Linked DNA regions of Homo sapiens: region 2 is linked to region 1. Evidence: fine-mapped expression QTL. A gene starts in region 1. The other region holds a variant in brackets. All regions are shown on one strand. Distances are between the middles of the regions.

Region 1 (2,904 bases):
ACAACCTTCCCCATTGCAACAGGTAGCCAGTCTCTAGGCTCCTTCTAGACCTCCATCATGCAAATAGGAAAACTCATGTGTTCTTATCATCTTCCTTTTTTTTTTTTAATTAAAAAAGCACATAAGGTAGCCCATTATACACACTATTCTGACCCTTTCTTTTTTCATTTAATGTGTCTTGGAGATTTTTTCCATACCAGATGATAGCGTTTCCTCATTCCTGTTCAGAGCACCATGTTTTCTCAATGTTTTATTTAACCAGCATTGCGGTTTTTTTTGGGTGATCTCGGCTCATTGCAACCTCCTCCTCTCGAATTCAAGCCATTCTCCTGCCTCAGCCTCCCCAGCAGCTGGGTTTACAGGCACGTGCCACCATGCCCAGCTAATTTTTGTGTTTTCAGTAGAGACAGGGTTTCATCTTGTTGGCCAGGCTGGTCTCAAACTCCTAGCCTCGATTGATCCGCCTGCCTTGGCCTCCCAAAGTGCTGGGATTATAGGTGTGAGCCACTGCATGTGGCCAGCATTGCAGTTTTTTTGTTTTTGTTTTTTTGAGACAGAGTCTTGCTCTGTTGCCCAGGCTGGAGTGCAGTGGCACGATCTTGGCCCACGACAACCTCTGCCTCCCAGGTTCAAGCAATTCTCCTGCCTCAGGCTCCCGAGTAGCTGGGACTACAGGCACCCGCCATCACACCCGGCTAATTTTTTGTATTTTTAGTACAGATGGCGTTTCACTATGTTGGCCAGGCTAGTCTCGAATACCTGACCTCGTGATCCGCCCACCTCAGCCTCCCAAAGTGCTAGGATTACAGGCGTGAGCCACCGCGCCTGGCCCAGCATTGCAGTTTTTAAAGTCCTATTTCGTATATGAGGAAACTGATGTCTGAAAGAAATGACCTGTCCAAGGTCACTCAGACTAGACTCCTAGCTTTTGACTCCAGTCCAGTGGCGTCCCAGAGGGCTCCAAAGCCTTCTTTAACCCAGGTAGTTAGGGGTTAAACTCTATTCCCTCTCTCCACCCCCTAATATATCTCTGCCTGGGCTGCTTCTACCTTTGGGTTCTGAGACTACTCCCCTGTTCCTATTCCTGCCCTCTACCCTATAGTCCCCTCTGGGCTCAGAAGGTGGTCAGCTTTGTCCCCTTCCTGAGGGAGGAGGGGAGCCTTACCTTCAGCACTGACCAGTCCCTCCCAACACTCGAATGCTGTGTCCACGGCTTTGGAGGCTCAGCTAGTGCCTGGACTGTAGGGTGGCCCGTCTCCTTCTTCCTTTGCCCCAACAGTGAGGCTACCAGTGTCATCTGTTCCTTAAATGTCTGGCCCCCTGGGGGCGATTCCTTAGTCAGGCTCTGCAGCTGTCTCAGCTAGATGGCACACTGCTTGGTTGTGGGGGGAGGGGGAGGGCGGTGGAGAAGGGAGGCGGGAAGCAAAGCTGGATCCAGGCTGGGGGAAACACTGAAGGCCAGGCGGGAAGGAGGCTGAGGGTGGCAGTCCAGGGGTACTTTTTTTGTTCCCTTGTGGTACAGGTTTTGGCTCTCACTGCTGCTGGGTAGGACCTCTCTGAGCTGAGGGGCTCAGGGTAGTGTGTGTGCACAGGCACACACTCAGGTACAGGTGCATGCATAGTCCAGCAGGGCTCAGGGAGCAAAGCAACAGGTCTGTATTTTCCAGGGACTGGGACACGGTGAACTGGGGAGGGCCTCTGGGATCTGCTGCGTTGCTACACAAATCCAGGGGTTCCCATTCATGTTGCACTCCTATGTGTGGTTCATACACAGCCTGAGTATCTTTACAAGGCCACCCTGGGGAAGAACAGGGAAATGTTAGGTCTCCTTCCTCTTCCCACTTCAACAGCCCAATCTCCCTAATCTGGGTAGAAGAGTAGGAGGGCCCATCCTCCGGGGGTTGTGGGGAGGTCTCTGCTTGAGGGTGACTGGAGAGTATGGCCACCTCTTCTCAAGGACTTCCATCTGGGCTGCTTCAGCCACCTGTTGTTTTCTTTTCTTTTCTTTTTTTTGAGATGGAGTCTCTGTCACCCAGACTGGATGCAGTGGCACGATCTTGGCTCACTGCAACCTCTGCCTCCCAGGTTCAAGCGATTCTCCTGCCTCAGCCTCCTGAGTATCTGGGATTACAGGCGTGCACCGCTACGCCCGGCTAATTTTTGTATTTTTAGTAGAGATGGGGTTTCACCATGTTGGTCAGGCTGGTCTCGAACTCCTGACCTCATGATCTGCCACCCCTCGGCCTCCCAATGTGCTGGGATTACAGGCGTGAGCCACCGTGTCCAGCCCACCCTGTTGTTTTCTCATCATCTGTAGCACACCCCGCATGCCTGGACCCTGGATCCCACCCAAGGTTCTGGCACCTTGTAAGGACTTGTTGGTCAGCACCCTTGCCCTGGACCCCTCCTTCTGCCCTGGGGTGACCCCCACCTGCCAGCAGTGGCATCATGGCTACTTTTGCTCCATCCCAGGGGGGCAGGGGACAAGAATAGAGCAGGAGTGTCCAGGATGGCTCAGGATCTCAGCCCACATGCAGATTCCCTGGGCCCCTTGGGAGGAGCTACTCTGAGCCCAGGCCTTACAAGGGAAATTACTGGGCTGCAGCTGCTGTTGGGATCTGTGGAGCTAACATGGGATAAGAGTTTGGCCAACAGGGAGGGGCCTGGGTGTGACCTGAATGTCTCCTTACCCTAGCCTTGGCTTCTCTGGCACATCTGTTGGAAATGGTGACCTGCCAGCCACTGTGCCTTCCCTGGAAGCCTTCCACACCTGTCCTTGAGGCTCCCCATGGCCCAGAGCATGTGTCAGGGCCAGGGCTGAGGCTGTGTGAGAATCCTGCAGAATGTTCCCAGTTTGGCTTTACAAATTTGGACTCGCTCCATACTCCCAGTCTCCACAAGGGG
Region 2 (2,904 bases), 54 kb after region 1:
GATGATCCCTTCTGGCATCTGCTCCGCTCCTCATTGCTTACAAGGCTCCTTCTCATGGGGCTGGGATGTACTTACAGAGGGGAAAGCTGAAGTTCAGAGCTCAGTTTGCTCCCACCTGCAACTAGAGGGGCCCCTAGCTCCTGCCACACCCTGCTGTGAGCTCCAGCTTCTCATCAGGGCCCCTACCCTCAGCCTGATTTAACCCTTCTGTGCTCAGGCCTGGCTCACGTCATGGCAACCTGGGAAGATCTTGGCATCTTCAGGTTTGGTGGAAGAGTCTAACTGAGTCAGAAGCAGGGCCTGGAGGGGAAGACACAGCGAGGCTGGGTTTGGAAACATTAGCTGGATTTGAGGCTCTTTTGCAAGGAAAAAAAAAAAAATAGAGTGTAAACTAGGAAAAAATCCCAGGTGGGACCAAGAGTCAAGGTTGAAAGGAGCCTGACCTCTTGAATTCAAATTTAATAAATAGCAGCTGCAGACCTACCATATGCCACATGCTTCTCAGTACCTTATTTCATTAGCTCTTTGAGACAACCCCATGAAAACATCATTATCTCACTCTGCAGGAGCTATAGGCACTTAAGAGAGGTTAGGGACTGACATGAGAGCAGGTACGTGGTCTCCCTGGTCCTGGGCCAAGGATGGCTGATTCTCTCCTTTCCCTGTGCCAGTGGACAGCTGGAAACCTGGGCCCAGGGCAGGCTGTCAACAGAGGTCCTCAGTCACGGGCTGAATTCCTCAAAGCACGACAGACTGACCATTCTGAGATCACATATTGTAAGGCAACCCTGGTCCTCCGGGAAAAGGATGAATTCAGAGGCAGAGAGACCTGGCTAACATGCTGTGCTCTGCCACTTTCTCCACAAGGGGCCTTGGGTCGGTGTCCTAACCTCTCTGAGTCTCAATTTCCTCCCACTTAACATGGCACCGATGAGAGCTGCAGGGTTGTGATGAAGCCTGGGAAGCGAGGGCTGTACATAGGGAGAGCTTGGCAGTCCTGGGCAGGCCTCCTTCTCCATATTCCTGCTGACCTGGCTCGAAGCTTCACTTCCTGTCTCCCTCCAAGTCAACCTCACACAGGAGACACTCCTGCTCTTTGTACCAGGCAGTGCCATCAGCTACAAAGGTCTGCTTCCTATTTCCTCAGGCTCTGTCAGGTGTTCCTGGAGCTAATGAGAACAATGCAGGTGACAGCAGCTGGAGGATGAGAGGGGTCTTCCCAGCAGAACCTCCTCTGCCCTCTGGAGAGCTCCAGGCTGTTTCCAGGTCCCCAAGTCAGACCCAGAGCCCTAGGAAAGGGCGGGTAAAAGAACTGGAAACTCCACTTCACAGGATTTCCCAAATCCTCCTCTGCCATGACATCCGCCTGCCCCAGCCATGCTCCCTCCTGCTTTTCTGCCTTAGTCTCTCAGCTCCTAGAGCGGCCCCTAGCTCCTGCCACACCCTGCTGTGGGCTCCAGCTTCTCATCAGGGCCCCTGCCCCCCGCCTAATTTAACCCTTCTGCACTCAGGCCTGGCCAGGAAAGGCCTTCCTGCTCCTCCTCTTTGTGCTGTGGTTTCCAGCCCTTCCAAGGCCCACCTCAGCCC[A/G]GGTCTCCTCCAGGAAACCTCCCTAGTGAGTCTAGGGTGTGTTGACCTCTCCTCTGGCTCAATCCTTCCCCCAGCACTTTTTGTGACTTGGAAACTGGTAATGAGCCACACCCTGTCCCGGGCTGCTCCCTGGCTCTCTTGTCCATAACTTTGGCTTCTGTAAACTTCCCAGGCTGACAAGGGGCAAGGGATAAAACCCCCTCTTTATCCCCCACGACAGAAAGCCCAGTGCAGAGGAGAAAAAAACATGGAAGGCAGGTCCAGCTCTTTCCTTTACACTCAGATTTGGAAGGAAGATGGGAAGGAAAGACCAAGTGGGAGAAAAAGAAGAAAGACATGAGTGGAAAGGAGTGAAGGAAGAGGGAAGGGCTGCTGCATGACACTCAGTACCAGGGTCATGAGAGGACAGATCAGGCCCACGATCCAGGTGGCCTTGAATCATGCTTTAGGGCTCTCACACTCTGATTATGCAACTCCTAGGCTTGACACAGAGACCTCTTTGAAAACCTTTGGAACTCACCTCCTCCAGGCAGCCTTCTGAGATTGACTCTGATCTTTGCCGCACCCCCCCGGCCCCGCCCCGGCCCCCTTGACTCCCTGAGCTGCGCTACTTTGCACTCATCCATGCCACTTCCCATGATGCTAGGTCCTCTGGGGAAGGGATGGAGGTCTCTGCCTCACTGGCAGGAAGTCAGTTTACATTTATCATCTGTAGCCAGAGATCAGACTGTCTTTTTTTGACCACTTTTTTTTTTTTTTGAGATGGAGTCTTCCTCTGTCACCCAGGCTGGAGCGCAGCGGCGCGATCTAGGCTCACTGCAGCCTCCGCCTCCCGGGTTTAATCAATTCTCCTGCCTCAGCCTCCCAAGTAGCTGGGACTACAGGAGCCTGCCACCACACCTGGCTAGTTTCTGTATTTTTAGTAGAGATGGGGTTTCACCATATTGGCTAGGGTGGTGTCAAACTCCTGACCTCAAGTGATCCACCCGCCTCGGCCTGGTGCTGGGATTACAGCCATGAGCCACCATGCCCAGCTCCAACTTTATTAGCTCCAGGGGGTGGTTCAGAATATATTTTGTATTTTAAACCCAGTTTGTCTCTAAGATAATCTTACTATAATCTTATATCAATTTCTTTAATATCAGGCTCTGTACTGAGCCTTGGGGGACACACAGATAACTAAGAGCCAGTCCCTGCCCTCCACCCAGCATTCGGCCTAGTGAGTTGAGTGAGAAATGCATTAAAGGCCCACTGAGGCTGTCTTATGGGAGCACTCAGGAGGGCACAAAAACAGAGTCTGGGAAGCTGCACAGAAGA

Which allele goes with the higher level. Alleles are on the strand shown, and positions count from the first base shown. SD is a standard deviation of normalised expression in the study named.
With allele G in place of A in region 2, the expression in left ventricle of the gene that starts at base 1,280 in region 1 is higher (small effect, 0.32 SD a copy in GTEx).

What was found. PIP is the estimated chance that this variant, and not a neighbour inherited with it, causes the effect.
Region 2: its variant is fine-mapped to the expression of IGSF22 in left ventricle (GTEx, PIP above 0.99).

What each region holds. Positions count from the first base shown.
Region 1 is chr11:18,724,909-18,727,812 of GRCh38, forward strand. IGSF22 (immunoglobulin superfamily member 22) reads right to left here and starts at 1,280. Exons shown (of 23, transcript NM_173588.4): 1 at 1,166-1,280. The region is part of intron 2 of IGSF22-AS1 (IGSF22 antisense RNA 1); the gene reads left to right.
Region 2 is chr11:18,778,992-18,781,895 of GRCh38, forward strand. All of the region lies in intron 1 of PTPN5 (protein tyrosine phosphatase non-receptor type 5), which reads right to left. Among named protein-coding and RNA genes, the nearest start is that of PTPN5, 11 kb to the right of the region's middle. The variant A/G (reference allele first, on the strand shown) is at 1,588.